2 separate regions of the Homo sapiens genome follow, and region 1 is linked to region 2. The links come from fine-mapping of genetic effects on gene expression. Tissue or cell type: whole blood. Region 2 holds a variant in brackets; the other region holds the start of a gene. All regions are shown on one strand. Distances are from middle to middle.

Evidence for each region. PIP is the estimated chance that this variant, and not a neighbour inherited with it, causes the effect.
Region 1: TMEM44 starts here. The variant in region 2 is fine-mapped to the expression of TMEM44 in whole blood (TOPMed, PIP 0.96).

Annotation. Positions count from the first base shown.
Region 1 is chr3:194,628,379-194,636,528 of GRCh38, forward strand. It overlaps TMEM44 (transmembrane protein 44), which reads right to left and starts at 5,041. Exons shown (of 10, transcript NM_001011655.3): 1 at 4,701-5,041; 2 at 5-131. The coding sequence starts at 4,837. It overlaps TMEM44-AS2 (TMEM44 antisense RNA 2), which reads left to right and starts at 4,550. Exons shown (of 2, transcript NR_186047.1): 1 at 4,550-4,789. RefSeq lists a silencer at 4,810-5,239 and an enhancer at 7,790-8,150.
Region 2 is chr3:194,580,057-194,588,293 of GRCh38, forward strand. TMEM44 (transmembrane protein 44) reads right to left here. Exons shown (of 10, transcript NM_001011655.3): 10 at 7,622-8,237. TMEM44-AS1 (TMEM44 antisense RNA 1) reads left to right here and starts at 4,212. Exons shown (of 3, transcript NR_047575.1): 1 at 4,212-4,392. RefSeq lists enhancers at 3,478-4,143, 4,179-4,228 and a silencer at 3,729-3,988. The variant TCGGCTGCGGCGG/T (reference allele first, on the strand shown) is at 3,833.

The sequences.
Region 1 (8,150 bases), 48 kb after region 2:
ATACCTGGATTGTGAGCTGTCTGGCCAGAAGAGCCCCGACGGTGTCACACAGACTGGTCAGGAGGCAGCACGCAGCACACAGTGCCGACTGGTCCTGTCTGGGTTTCTGTGCACATCTCAGATAGAGAAGCCTGGGGTGACAGGGGTGTGGACAGAACACAGCAACTGTGAGTTTGGACCCAAACGCATGTATCTAAAAAGGGCAACTGTGACCCCGCATCGTCAGGGAGCTCTTTCTGCCCGAGGTATTTAGGACGTGTTTTTGAACTGAGTTTACAGATGGGAACCAATCAGAAGACTCCAGAGCCGCCTGTCCAGATGCCCATGGCAGGAGCTAGACCTCGTGAGATGTGAAGACACCGCCTCTTTGGAGGAAGAGGAATTTTACTTTCCGACTCCAAATCAGGACGGCTCCATTTGATGACCCCCCACCTAGCACTGAAAAAGCAGCCATCGGGTTTTATTTTTTGAAAAGGAAACAGGAGGGTTATAAAAGTAACTCAGGCTGGGTATGGTGGCTCACACCTGTAATCCCAGCAGTTTGGGAGGCCGAGGCAGGAGGATCCTCTGAGGTCAGGAGTTCGAGACCATCCTGGCCAACATGGTGAAACCCCGCCCCTACTAAAAATACAAAAATTAGCCGGGTGTGGTGGCGTGCGCCTGTAATCCCAGCTACTCCGGAGGCTGAGGCAAGAGAATTGCTTGAACCCAGGAGGCAGAGGTTGCAGTGAGCCAAGATCACACCATTGCACTCCAGCCTGGGTGACAAAGCGAGACTCCGTCTCAAAAAAAAAAAAAAGCAACCCAACCACTGCAGATAACTGCAGAGCACAGTTAATTGCCTGAATTAAAAAGACAACTTGTTTCTCTGAAATAAATTCAAACGAAATTCTTCTAAACCATCTGTGAAGTGGGGCAGCCTGGCTTCTGCTGGCCTGTGTCCATGTTCTTTAAACACAGAGCCCTTTTGGCACTTGGAGCTGTCCCTCCCTCAGCGCCCCCACAGCCACTTCTCCCCTTACAGCCCCTCCCCAGTCCATATCCACTGGAGAAGATGCACGGAAGGGCAGGAAGGGGCTGGCTGTTTCTATCAGCGTCACTGATAGGGCCTCTGAAATACGTTGTTGTACATGCCTCCCGAAGGGGCTGGCTGTATCTATCGGCGTCACTGATAGGGCCTCTGAAATACATTGTCGTACATGCCTCCTGAAGGGGCTGGCTGTTTCTATCGGCGTCCCTGATAGGGCCTCTGAAACACGTTGTCGTACCTGCCTCCCGAAGGGGCTGGCTGTTTCCATCGGCGTCACTGACAGGGCCCCTGAAATAATACGCTGTCGTACCTGCCTCCCGGAGGGGCTGGCTGTTTCCATCGGCGTCACTGATAGGGCCCCTGAAATAATACGCTGTCGTACCTGCCTCCCGGAGGGGCTGGCTGTTTCCATCGGCGTCACTGATAGGGCCCCTGAAATAATACGCTGTCGTACCTGCCTCCCGAAGGGGCTGGCTGTTTCCATCGGCGTCACTGATAGGGCCCCTGAAATAATACGCTGTCGTACTGCCTCCCGAAGGGGCTGGCTGTTTCCATCGGCGTCACTGATAGGGCCCCTGAAATAGTATGCTGTCGTACCTGCCTCCAGAAGGGGCTGGCTGTTTCCATCGGCGTCACTGATAGGGTCCCTGAAATAATACGCTGTCGTACCTGCCTCCCGAAGGGGCTGGCTGTTTCCATCGGCGTCACTGATAGGGCCCCTGAAATAATACGCTGTCGTACCTGCTTCCCGAAGGGGCTGGCTGTTTCCATCGGCGTCACTGATAGGGCCCCTGAAATAATACGCTGTCGTACTGCCTCCCGAAGGGGCTGGCTGTTTCCATCGGCGTCACTGATAGGGCCCCTGAAATAGTATGCTGTCGTACCTGCCTCCAGAAGGGGCTGGCTGTTTCCATCGGCGTCACTGATAGGGCCCCTGAAATGATACGCTGTCGTACCTGCCTCCCGAAGGGGCTGGCTGTTTCCGTCGGCATCACTGATAGGGCCCCTGAAATAATACGCTGTCGTACTGCCTCCCGAAGGGGCTGGCTGTTTCCATCGGCGTCACTGATAGGGCCCCTGAAATAGTATGCTGTCGTACCTGCCTCCAGAAGGGGCTGGCTGTTTCCATCGGCGTCACTGATAGGGCCCCTGAAATGATACGCTGTCGTACCTGCCTCCCGAAGGGGCTGGCTGTTTCCATCGGCGTCACTGATAGGGCCCCTGAAATAGTATGCTGTCGTACCTGCCTCCAGAAGGGGCTGGCTGTTTCCATCGGCGTCACTGATAGGGCCCCTGAAATGATACGCTGTCGTACCTGCCTCCCGAAGGGGCTGGCTGTTTCCGTCGGCGTCACTGATGGGGCCTCTGAAATACGTTGTCGCACGTGCCTCCTGGAGGGGCTGGCTGTTTCCGTCGGCATCACTGATAGGGCCTCTGAAATAATACGCTGTCGTACCTGCCTCCCGAAGGGGCTGGCTGTTTCCGTCAGCGTCACTGATGGGGCCTCTGAAATACGTTGTCGCACATGCCTCCTGGAGGGGCTGGCTGTTTCCGTCGGCATCACTGATAGGGCCTCTGAAATAATACGCTGTTGTACCTGCCTCCCGAAGGGGCTGGCTGTTTCCGTCGGCATCACTGATAGGGCCTCTGAAATAATACGTTGTCGCACGTGCCTCCCGAAGGGGCTGGCTGTTTCTATTGGCGTCACCGATAGGGCCTCTGAAATACGTTGTCATACCTGCCTCCCGAAGGGGCTGGCTGTTTCCCTCAGCGTCACTGATAGGGCCTCTGAAATATGTTGTCGTACCTGCCTTCCGAAGGGGCTGGCTGTTTCTATCGGCGTCACTGATAGGGCCTCTGAAATACATTGTCGTACCTGCCTCCTTGCTACATTTCTCTGGAGACACCGAGACAGGGTGGCAGCGCTGGCTTCATTTCCACTCAGCAGAGGGTGGTGCTCATTCCACATCCTTAGGACGATTTAGCTGATTCTGAGCGCCTGTCCTTGGGAATGGTGGATGAGTACAGAGGGCTCTTGGCTTTCTAAACATTTCCTGACCTGCTGGCCCAAGCCTGAAGCTCACAGTGGCAACATCAACTTCAGTCTGGGCCCTGGGCTCCTAAAACCAATTGAAGACCAAGGAGTGGAGATTCTTAAATTGGAGACTCCCAGAGGCGGACCCCAATTAGAAATAATTTATATCAACCCTCCCATTTGAGAGGACAAAACTGAGGCCTCTGGTGAGAAGGTGAGTTAATGGTGGTCTTCTGGCTTCACACGCGGGGGCTTTGCTCCGTACCCTGTTGTTCTCAGCCACTTCCCCAGCTCTTGGGGCCAGGGTGCCAGCTGACCTTAACCCAGCCCACACACCACTCCGAAGACACATTCTTCTAAGAGAAAGGGGAGCAGGGGAGGTTCAGGGATGGCAAGGCCCTGAAAACAAATGGGTATGTCCAGATCCCAGGCAGGGTGAGAAGCAGAGGCTCACTCTTAACCCCTCCAAGGTTGGCAAAGTGCCTAACAGTGCTGGTCTGAGGACAACTGTGAGGAACAAAAGGATAATGCGTGTCCAGCGCCTTGTTAGTTTCCAGCCTCTGATCTGAACAGTTTAATCTCTCTTACCAGCCTGCCCCTTTCCAATAGGATCTGGGGTTTTGGTTCTTTCCTTTCACTCAGACAAGTTATTTAACCTCTCAGAACCTCAGGGTTCCCTACAGAAAGTGGGGGTAACAGCACCTACCTCCTGGTGCTGATATTGTGAGTGGCAGGCATTGAATGAGTTAATGAATGCAACACTGGGCCTACAGTAAATGTTCTAGGCGTCTTTTTATTTGTATTGCAGTACTGGGTAGTGGGGCTGCAGAATCTCTGCAATACGACCAAACGCCTTAGGAGAATATCCACTGAGTGCCTACAGGGAGACAGTTCTAACCTCTCCCAGGGGTGCTGGTCCTTTCTCCCCTGCCAGGGAATGCTTGGGCGGCACCATCCTGAGCACTGCTAGTGGATTTCCATGCCTAGGACAGAGCGGCTGAGGACCTGGAGATTCACTCTTAGAACTTAGGCTACCGTGGGCATCTGGACAAACCAGTCCAGGTGCTGGACAGACCAGGGCAAAGACAGGCCAGCTGGATCATATCACTACCTCCCTTCCCACCTAAGAGGACTTTGGGTAAACTGAGGCCAGAAACATCAAGGGACTTGCCAAGGTCCTAAGAGTTGGTGGCCTAGCTGGAGCAATACAAATGATGTTTAATGAGCATTTACTAAGTGCTTTAACGGTACTGATTCATCGAATCCTCCCATCATCCTATGAGGTATTATCTCCGGTCATAGGAGGCCCAGAGAGGTTCTGGAGCTTGCCCAGGTCACACTGCGAGTCAATGGCGAAGGGCTGACAATAGCACCCAGGGCTCGCGGTGTCCTCGGGGCCCCATCCGCTGCACCACCCAGCCTCCTCCCTTTGGCTCACAGCCCAGCTTCCCTGTGCGTGGGATCCGGAAAGAAGATCCCACTTCAGTCTACAGAGCAATGTTCCATTGGATCCTATTACTGAGCCATCTCCTTCATCCCCCTTTCCGCCCCCTCCTCTAGGTTTCCGAGAGGGAGCAGCAGGGGATTGGCGCCCGTTTCCCCGCCCGACAGCCCCCCGACCCGTGGCCCCATTACAGCGCGTGGGCGGCGATCCAGCAGGAGGAGGCGCAGATCCACAGGCCGAAGGAGATGCAGACGCGGTGGCGGGCGAAGCAGCGGTCCAGGTAGTCCCAGTCCCAGAGCGCGGGCGCGGGGCTGGGCGCCTCCCCCATGGCGCGGCTGGGCGCGCGGCGCGGGGCCGGGGACCTGGGCGCAGCCTCCCTCGCCGCGGGCAAGCCCCGAGCGCCGCCGCCCCGCGTGCCCTTCTCTGGGTTCCGTTCCGCCGCGGCGCCTCCGGCCGAGCGCACCGACCGCGGGCAGAGAAGGGCGCGCTCCCGGGCGCGGGCGGCGGCGGCGAAGGCGCCGGGGAAAAGTTTCCGGGACCGCGCGCTCCCCACCCCTCGCGCTATTGTCGGGGGTCGGCAGGGCGGAGGCCGCCCCCCAGCGGCGGGAGCCGGGAGCTGCGCGCGCACAAAGACTGCGGCCCCCGCCCCCCGCCGACCTCTTCGCGGTCACCCACCTCCAACATCCTGGCCGGAGCGGGGCGGGCGGCTGGGCTCGCGGACGGCCGAGTCCCTGCCGGTCGCTGTAAGGCACGGCGTCCCTTCCTGCGTATTGTCCACATTTCCTGAGCCAACAGCAATTAGTTGCGCTGCTGAAGCGCATGGGTGCTGGGATCCCGAGGTGAAGGGGGCGTGGTCCTGATCGCCGACAGGGCGCAGTAAAAAGGGTGGGGTGCAAGACCAGGAAGGAGGAAACAAACGTGCCGGAGAACAAATACCCCCACATCTGCCTCTCACTCTCCTTTCTGAAGCTGCCAACGGCACCCTCCGCCCCCAGGCAGTCGCCCAAGCCCTGCTCCTGGATGTCATCCTAGCCCACGGCCCCGCAGCCAAGAGCTGGTTATCTCTGCAACCGGCCGCCTCCTGTCCAGCCACACACCGCACAGTTCAAGTACACAGGGCTGTTTTTCTTGAGAGTAAACTATTATTGTAATTTTTAAATCTCCTTATTGATTTTAGTAGGTTTGTTTAAAGCAAGACATGACTTGAAAACAATATTTCTATAGAAGGAGCAGGATTGAAAAAAAGAAAAAAAATCTTTTTTAATTTTCAAAAACTACAGCTTTATTTAGATATTATTTATATGCCATAAGCATAGTCTTTTTTTTTTTTTTTTTTTTTGAGACAGAGTCTCACTCTGTTGCCCAGGCTGGAATGCAATGGTGCGATCTCAGCTCCCTGCAGCCTCCGCCTCCCAGGTTCAAGCAATTCTCCTGCCTCCGCCTCCCAAGTAGCTGGGACTACAGGTGCCCGCCACCACACCCGAGTAATTTTTGTATTTTTAGTAGAGACGGTGTTTCACCATGTTGGCCAGGCTGGTCTTAAACTCCTGACCTCGTGATCTGCCCTCCTCAGCCTCTTAAAGTGCTGGGATTACAGGTGTGAGCCACCACATCCAGCCTACATAGTACTTTTAAAATGTACAATTCTGGCCAGGCACGGTGGCTCACAACTGTAGTCCCTGCACTTTGGGAGGCTGAGGCAGGCGGATCACTTGAGGTCAGGAGCTCAAGACCGGCCTGGCCAACATGGTGAAACACTGTCTCTACTAAAAATACAAAAATTAGCCGGGCATGGTGGTGCGCGCCTGTAATCCCAGCACTTTGGGAGGCCGAGGCAGGTGGATCACTTGAGGTCAGGAGTTTGAGACCACCCTGGCCAACATGGTGAAACCCCATCTCTACTAAAAACACAAAAATTAGCCAGGCATGATGGCAGGCGCCTGTAATCCCAGCTACTCGGGAGACTGAGGCAGGAGAACTGCTTGAACCTGGGAGGCGGAGATTGCTGTGAGCTGAGATGGCGCCACTGCACTCCAGCCTGGGCGACAGAGCAAGACTCCATCTCAAAACAAAACAAAAAATAAAATGTACAATTCAGCAGTTTTTAGTGTATCCATAGCGTTGTGCAACCAACATCACTGTCTACTTTTAGAACATTTTCATCACCCCCATCTGAAAAGAACCCGGCCCACTGGCAGTTACTGTCCACTCCCCTCAACACTCGCAGCCCAGGAATCGCAAATCTACCTTCTGTCTCTATGGATTTGCCCATTTTGGACATTCCACATCAATGGAATCATCCACTATATGACCTTTCTGTGACTTTCACTTAGCATGTTTTCAAGGTTCATTCATGTTGCTGCGTGTTATCAGTACTTCATTCCTGTTTATGGCTCATCATAATACATGGTATGGGTATTTTTATACCACATTTCGTTTATCCACTCATTAGTGGGATGTTTGGATTGCTTTCACCTTTGGGCTATTATGAATAATGCTGCTCTGAACATTTGTGCACAAGTTTTTGTGTGGACACAGGTTTCATGCTCTCTTGGGTATATACCTAGGAGTGTCCTTGCTGGGATCTGTGGTAACTGTGTTTAATGTTTTGAGGAATTGCCAGACTATTTTCCAAAGTGGCTACACTATTTTAGTGGTTCACTGTGTTTTCAAAGTTATGATTTGGCTTGGTAAGGTGGCTCATGCCTGTAATCCCAGCACTCTGGGAGGCCAAGGTGGGAGGATCAGTGGAGCCCAGGAGTTGGAGACCAGCCTAGACAACATAGGGAGACCCCGGTCTCTCAAAACAAAACAAAGTTATAACCTCTCAGGAGAAATGAAATCTAATCACTAATTTGATGGTATTAGATTGGTGCAAAAGTAATTGTGGTTTTGGCTATTAAAAGTACTGGAAGCGGTAGCTCACGCCTGTAATCACAGCACTTTGGGAGGCTGAGGCGGGTGGATCACTTGAGGTCAGGAGTTCCGGACCAGCCTGGCCAACATGGTGAAACCCTGTCTCTACTAAAAATACAAAAATTAGCTGGGTGTGGTGGCAGGCACCTGTAATCCCAGCTACTTGGGAGGCGGAGGCAGGAGAATCTCTTGAACCTGGGAGGCAGAGGTTGCAGTGAGCCGAGATCACGCCACTGCACTCCAGCCTGGGCAACAGAGCAAGACTCTGTCTCAAACAAACAAACAAAACAAAACAAAACAAAAAAAGCCAGATAAAAGTACTTTGGTACAAAAGTAATTGCAGTTTTGGCCATTAAAAGTAAGCTTTGGTGCAAAAGTAATTGCGGTTTTGGCCATTAAGAGTAAGCCACTTTTTTTGGCCATTAAAAGTGGCTTACATTTAATGGCCAAAACCGCAATTACTTTTGCACCAAACTATATTAGGTGGCGCCTTTAGGAACCAGAAAGCAGGCCCTTCAACTAAATCTGCAGGCACCTTGATCTCGGACTTCCTAGCTTCCACAACTGTGAAAAACAAATCTGTGTTATTTACACGCCACTCAGTCCAAAGCATTTTGTTATAGTAGCTCAAATAGACTAAGACAGGCATTGCGTTAGGAGCTGGGAACACACTATTGAGTAAAACAGACATGGGTCCTACTTACTTGGAGCTTACAGTCCAGTAG
Region 2 (8,237 bases):
GCTGGAGTGCAATGGCGCCATCTCAGCTCACCGCAACCTCCGCCTCCTGGCTCCAAGCAATTCTCCTGCCTCAGCCTCCTGAGTAGCTGGGATTACAGGCAGGTGCCACCACACCCGGCTAATTTTGTATTTTTAGTAGAAACAGGGTTTCTCCATGTTGGTGAGGCTGGTCTCGAACTCCTGACCTCAGGTGATCCACCTGCCTCGGCCTCCCAAAGTGCTGGGATTACAGGCGTGAGCCACGCCTGGCGAGAATCTTTCTTTACTCCTGTTCTTTCTCACCCAGCTGGCTTTGAAAAACTTCCAACCTACAGAAAAGATGAAAGAATAACGAACATGTTTATGCTATTCGCCTAGATTAATCCATTGTTCCCGTTTTTCCGTTTGCTTTGTCTCTCTCCAACTACCTGAAAAATTTATAATTTTTTTCTGCTGAAATATTTAAAAGTCAGTTGCTTGGGGCCAGGTGCGGTGGCTCACACCTGTAATCCCAGCACTTTGGGAGGCCAAGGCGGGAGGATCACGAGGTCAGGAGATCGAGACCATGGTGAAACCCCGTCTCTACTAAAAATACAAAAAAAAATTAGCCAGGCATGGTGGCAGGCGCCTGTAGTCCCAGCTACTCAGGAGGCTGAGGCAGGAGAATGGTGTGAACCCGGGAGGCGGAGCTTGCAGTAAGCCGAGATCATGCCACTGCACTCCAGCCTGGGCGAGAGAGCGAGACTCTGTCTCAAAAAATAAAAATAAAAAATAAAAAATAAAAGTCAGTTGCCAAATCACGGTGCTTCACTCCTAAGTAGTTCAGCATGTATATCCAAAGGGGCGTTCTCCTGTGCAACCATAATATTATTAAGAAAGGAAACAATAAAGTTAGCTAATACACTGTACATATTCAAATTTGCTCAATTGTCCCAGTAATCCCATATAGCTCTCCCACCCCATCCCCACTGCAGACTCCTTTAAACTAGAACAGTTCTCTTAAGATGTATTTAAGTATTTCCACAGTCAAGAAACATCTACTACAAAAATCCACATAATCTTTTTACAACAGAATCTAATGACTTCTAAGACTTTTCTGATCTATCAAAATTTTTCTTATAATTGTGAATGGTGGCTCAAGCTCTCTTGTGTTCTACCTTTACTAGTTTACATTATGGTTTTGTTTTTTTTTTGAGACAGAGTTTTGCTCTGTTGCCCAGGCTGGAGTGCAGTGATCACTGCAACCTCCGCCTTCTGGATTCAAGCAATTCTCCTGCCTTAGCCTCCCGAGTAGCTGGGATTACAGGCGTGTGTCTAATTTTTGTATTTTTAGTAGAGACGGGGTATTCACCATGTTGGCCAGGCTGGTCTTGAACTCCTGACCTCAGGTAATCTGCCCCCACTTGGCCTCCCAAAGTACTGGGATTACAGGGGTGAGCCACTGCACCCGGCCTATTAGCTGACATTATCTTTCATAATTTTTTTTTTTTTTTTTTTACTGTGTGTGAACTGAGAATTCATGCTGTGAGAACAGGCAAAGCCACTCAGGCACTGCAGTAGATGATTTCAAGGTAATTCATGTCTGTTCTTCAATCCATGGTTCTGTGATATTTTAGGTTTAATGGCAAAATGTCATTTCTTCATTAAAGCATAATGTTTGGGCCAGGTGTGGTGGATCATGCCTGTAGTCCCAGCGCTTTGGGAGGCCGAGGAAGGTGGATCACTTGGGGTCAGAAGTTCAAGACCAGCCTGGCCAACATGGCGAACCCCGTCTCCACTAAAAATACAAAATGTAGCCAGTCATGGTGGCACGCGCCTGTAGTCCCAGCTACTCGGGAAGCTGAGGCAGGAGAATCGCCTGAACCCAGGAGGCAGAGGTTGCAATGAGCTGAGATGGCACCACTGCATTCCAGCTTGGGCAACAGAGACAGACTCCATCTCAAAAAAAAAAAAAAAAAAGTATGTTTAATTCTGCACAACAGTGGGGTTTGGGAGCTTTATCACTTTTTTTTTGTTTGTTTGCTATTCTAAGTAGTTTTGTGAGAACATCTCATACAAATAGATCTGTTTTAAAAGTAATTTCCCGGCTGGAGTGGTGGCTTGTGCCTGTAATCCCAGTACTTTGGGGGACCAAGGCAGGAGGATCTCTGGAGCCCAGGAGTTCGGAACCAGCCTGGGCATCATAGTGAGACTCCGTCTCTGTATTTGAAAATGATAACAAAATACCAAGAAGAGATGGAAAAAGTAAATACATAAAAGCAATTTCCCGAGGACAGTGTTTTTCAGAGACTGGTCCTGGACCATCTGTAGCAGAATCACCTGAGGAGCCTGCTAAGCTTCCCAAGCCCTGCCCAGACCTAGGGAATCCTCCGGGTGGAGCCTAAGAGTCTACATTTGAGTATCAGGGCTTTAGGCTATACTGGCTAGCAGAAGGTAAGGCCCATGAAATGGCCCTTTTCATCCATGGCCATGCTGTCCTTGGGAAAGATGGTGGTGGCCGCCGTGTATGACGTCCCTTGTTCCAGCTGTGGGTTTAGAGAATCCCTCAGATTTCCTCTGGAGATTCCAGGTGCCAAGACACCTGTAGGAGGAAGGCCGGAAGGGAAAGGTCAAGTCCGGAGCAGAGGCGTGGACCGCGGCAGGCTGCTGTTGGAGCGTGCTGGGCTCAGAAGCCGGGTTCTAGCTAGGAAACTGCGGAGTGGCCAAGGAGTTCCTGGCGCGAGGCACGCCACACAACCCTCGGATGCGAAGACGGTGACCATCCATTTCTCAATACGCCAGTGGCCCTGCCGTGCTACTGAGCCTCGTCAGCCTGTATAATGGAAGCTGAAGATGATGCAGCTCAGGAAAAGCAAGTATGATCTTAAGAACCCTGTAGCTGGAAAGCATGTTCCAAATCAAACCTAATGGAGACAACTACTAGAAGGTATAAAAGTTTTTTTTTTTTTTGAGACAGAATTTTGCTCCTGTTGCCTAGGCTGGAGTGCAGTGGCGCGGTCTCAGCTCACTGCAGCCTCTGCCTCGCCGGTTCAAACGATTCTCCTGCCTCAGCCTCCCAAGTAGCTGAGACTACAGGCGCCCACCACCACGCCCGGCTACTTTTTGTATTTTTGGTAGGGACGGGGTTTCACCATGTTGGCCAGACTGATCTCAAACTCCTGACCTCAGATGATCCGCCCGCCTCACCCTCCCAAAGTGTTGGGATTACAGGCGTGAGCCACCGCGCCCAGCCCAAAAGATTTTAAAAAGGAGTCTCTTGGAGGCAAAGGGACAGAACATTATTGTTTTTCATCATAAACCTTTTGGTGCAATCTGATTTTCTTTTTTTAAACCATGTACTTGCACTATTTTTATCTCAAAAAAGGTTTTTAATGCATTTAAAAACAAAGAAAAGAATGGTTTATAATACACCGTTAGGCTTCTGGGAGGTCTGAAACACACTATGAACCGTAAAATAACCTTGTAATTATCTCCTTAAAAACCGAGTGGGGTGGGCCAGGCGTGGTGGCTCACGCCTGTAATCCCAGCACTTTGGGAGGCCGAGGCGGGCGGATCACGAGGTCAGGAGTTCGAGACCAGCCTGACCAACATGGTGAAACTCCGTCTCCACTAAAAATACAAAAATTAGCCGGGCGTCGTGGCGCGCCCCTGTAGTCCCAGCTATTCAGTCGCAGAAGAATCGCTTGAATTCGGCAGGCGGAGGCTGCAGTCAGCAGAGACCGCGCCACTGCATTCCAGCCTGGGCGACAGAGACTCCGTCTCAAATAAACAAACCAAAACTGAACTACGGAGACGCCCTCGACAGTTCTTTCCCGGCTGCGTCGCCGCTGGCTGAGGTCAGAAACGCCGGCCT[TCGGCTGCGGCGG/T]CGGCTGCGGCGGCGGGGCGGGGCCGCGGGACTCTCGCTCCTCGCGGGAGGCGGTGGCTGCGGAGTGCGCACGCGCGGAACCGCAATTCCGTTCTTCCCGGAAGTGCCCTGCTGGTGCTGGGAGTAGGGCGCAAGATGTCGGCGGATGCAGCTCCGAGGAGGTAGGCAGTGGGAGCCGGCGTTCAGTCCGGCCCGTGCCAACAGTGGTTCCTCTCTCCCCCGTAGTTCGAGGAGACCACGCGCTGCCCCTCTGGCACGATCGTGGATGAACCCCCTGGCAACTGAAATGGGAAAGGCAGCGCCCCCGACTCTGGGGACTGGACCGAAGTCCACGGTAGTGACAGCTGCCAGACCCTGAGGAGAGGACGAGAAGACCCGAGGCCTCTGCTACGAACACTGGCAGCCGATGGAAAATTCAGACGGATTTGGGACAGTATGCAGAGTTCTCCAAGCGACAGATTAACAGAGGCTCTTGAAGAATAACTGCGTAATCACGTGTTCTGCTCAAAAGAAGGCCTGAATGCCCAGTGCCTTATTTGGCTTTCAGGGTTGGTGAAAGAAAAAGCAAAGTAGATGCTTTCTAATGCTAAGTCATTTAATGTAGCACCATTCCTTGAACTTCTTTCATCTCTAAGGTCGTCCCTTTCACCTGATGATGACCTTTGGGCCATCGTACAGGCATGTGTAAACTTGGAGATCTTCCTCAACATTGCACCATATCTTGGGTTCATTCAAGGCAGAGTCTCCTTGCAAAAGCATTCTAAAACAATGTAAAGTCGAAGAGAGTAGAGCAATACCTCCATAGTTGGAAAATGTGGAGGAGGCCAATTAAGGGACAGAAAAAGAAGTGCAGAGAATCTTGGAATTGTTGCAAAATTATTCTGGAGATATTTCTAAGTCTCCTCTATCCTTTTCCTTAGTGATTAATACAGGTTTTTATATTAAGTGGACAGTAAAATCCAAACAGAAAGAGGTATATGTCGTATAATGAAGCCTATGTTCAAAGTATATCTGAAATTTGTTTTTATAATGTCTTTCTTGAGAGCTTATAAAGATGTCAGTATTCTGTGGGAAACAAATTGGCACATGCATAAAAGAGAAAAAATGAAAAAAATCAGGCCCAACTTTCAGTTTACAGATGAGGAAACTGTGACATAGAAAAGGAAATGACAAAGATCACACTGAATCAGACCTGGGAACTGGAGCCCAGCCATGCTCCTTGGCCCAGTGCCTCTTCTTATTCTAGGAGCTCATACCCCTTTGAAAGAAACATAATATGAATGTGTCTTCAAATGATGCTCATAAATCTCTTCATCATACTGAGGGAGGGAGATAAGGGGATTAGTTCTTCAGGATCTAGACAGGCTTTCAAGAAAATCTTTAGCTGGGTGCGGTGGCTCATTCGTGTAATCCCAGCGCTTTGGGAGGCTGAGGCAGGTGGATCACCTGAGGTCAGGAGTTCCAGATCAGGCTGGCCAACAGCGTCTCTACTAAAAATACAAAAATTAGCCAGGCATGGTGGCGGGAGCCTGTAATCCCAGCTACTCGGGAGGCTGAGGCAGGAGAATCGCTTGAACCTGGGAGGCGGAGGTTGCAGTGAAGTGAGATCGTGCCATTGCACTCCAGGGCAACGAGTGAAACTCCATCTCAAAAAAAAAAAAAAAATCATCATCATCATCATCTTAGCAGAGCTCTCGCTAAATGATAAAGACTTGGCAACTGATATCCTTTTTTTCAGAGAACTTAAGTAGAGACTGGATAATCACTAATTGGGGTTGTGTTTAAGGGCATTCAAACCTCTGAAATCTCTTCCATCTGCAGGTCTAATTATTTGGTTACTCTTTCAGTACATGTGTGCAGGAAGCATGGGGGGAAAGAAAACTAATCCCTCTCCAAAGTCTTCTTTGAATAGGTATTATGTTTGCATTTTCATACATGTTAGTTCACTTAGTCTTCACCATAGGCTTTCTAGGTTGGTATTATTCTTAGTCTACCTAAGAAGTTCACAAAGGTTAGGTGACATGCTCCAAGCCACACAGATGATAGGCGGCACAACCAGATGATACTACAGGTCTCCAGATGAGTGAGCCAATGATTACATAGTTTGTTCCCCAGCCCCTCCCCAGTGTAGGTAAAGTGCCTGCACTGCTCACTGGGTCATCAGAGCAAGTTGCTCCCACTGCCCTCTTGGTCTAACGGCTAGAAACAAAGCTGCAACAGAGGCCCACTCCTACTAGGAGACAGGCATTTTAATTGGCACCTCCTTACAAAGGCTCCAGTGTTCTAGAGCTTTGCATACAGGAAGATTCTCGTTGAACAATGAAGCCAAACCTCGCTTCCAAAATTCCCAGTTTGGTAGTTCACTGTGGATGAAGAGGCCGGAGACACCCTTAGACAAGCTGGGACCGTGATGATAGGAACCAGTTTGTGAAGGGAGGAGGCTGGGCTAACAGGATCTAGGGAGATAGATGATATCTGGACCTTAGGTAGTTCGTGTTACTCAAAGTCAGCAAGGTTTTTGTTGTTTTTTGAGACAGTCTTGTTATGTTGCCCAGCCTGGAGTGCAGCAGTGCGATCTCAGCTCGCTGCAACCTCCACCCCGTGGGTTCAAGCAATTCTTGTGCCTCAGCCTCCTGAGTAGCTGGGACTACAGGTGCGGGCCGCCACACTTGGCTAATTTTTTGTACTTTTAGTAGAGATGGAGTTTCACCATGTTGGCCAGGCTGGTCTTGAAGTCCTGTCCTCAAGTGATCTGCCTGCCGCAGCTTACCACAAGTGCTGGGATTACAGGTGTGAGCCACTGCACCTGGCCAAGATCATTTGATGTTCTTGGGTGAATGGCCACTTTCACCTGGATCCCACCAATTTTTGGTGCCCTAGGGAGCATGATCCAGAGTTCCCTCAAGACAGAGGATGTGCTAAAGGCAAACTCCAGAGGTCATCCTATCCCCATGCCTTCCGCCTTTCTAAAGAGAAGCTCTTCTGCCCTGCTGTTACCACTCAGTACTCTAGATTAAACCTGTTCCCCACGTTCATTCTGTACCCATGACTATATTTCTGCTTCCTGGAAAGTTGTAGCCATAGGAATGAAAAACTCACCAATCAGTTGTGGTCTTCCTGAGGCAAGTCAGTCACCTTCCTACTCTGGTATCTTCCATGGCTACCAGCTGGCCACAGAACCAAGCACTGACTCACCAGCCTCCAGTCTGGTTCCTTTTCAGCCTTTTTGCCACCCCTACAGCCCATACTACATCATCCATTCTGGCCATCTCAGATTCTTCCTTGCTAGCTCCCACCTTTCCCTGCATCCAGTCCTCTGTACTATTTCATCTATTTGAACACTCTTTTCTCCCTGCATCCTGGGTCTCCATTCAAATCTTCCTCTTCCCTGGAAGTACAGCTTCAGTGGTTAACATCACAAAGCAAAGCTGACTTCAGCAAACTTTCCAAGACAACCAGGGACCAACACAGTTCAGATTAAAGGGGATAAATAAAGTGGCTTTAAGATCACTTGTAGTTCAGAGGTCACCCAGGGGATTAGGATCTATGCAGAGACCTGCAGAGCCACGCTGCTTCCCCAAGGGACCCCCTTCATGCTGCTGGAACTTGCCCTACCCCTCAGGAGAAACTGGGCTGCTGTAGCTGCGTCACGCAGGCGGCTGTGGGCCAGCCCGGAGCAAAACTGTGTTGCTTGGCATTTCTCCACTTCCTCTCGTGGCCGACGTCATTCTGTGACTGTGCAGGGATTCATGCTCGCCATTGCACTCCACAGTGAGATACTTGAATTGATTTAAAATTTATTCACCCCAGTGTTCACTCCCACCTTAGCCCCATTCCATGCGCCCTTACCCTTACTCATCGCAGTATCAAAATAACTCCCAAATGGGATTGCTGTGCTTGAACACCTCCCATCATGCCTCTTACCTTCTGCATGCATTTAGTTAGTTCCTGAAGCATACAGCCCCCTCACCTGCAAGCCCCGCCTCAGCGCACACCCTTGCCAGGTTGGAGGAAGTCCTGGTACCCGGAGCAGTTTGCTTTGTTTTTGCAGTGTCAGTGATCTCACAAGCACTTGGTTGGCCACACAGTCCTATCGATAACTTCCAGCAGATAACCCAAGTGGGTGACTGGGGGGTGGAAGCCAGGTCTCGGTTCCTGTGTGTGACCCAAGGCCCCCCAGCACAGGGCCCACCCTCTCATCTGGCTCAGCCAGGTCTTGCAGAATGGGCTCTGCTGAGATCTAACCAGACACATTTGCTATCTGTTAGGTGAGCTCATTCCTGGAACCTAGCAGGTATTCCGTTCATGGCTGACTCTCAAGGGAATGAAGGGAAAAGGAAGAGCGGGTCTGAGATCCTTTGGATTATCTTTACGAAGCAAAAGCTTCTGTGAA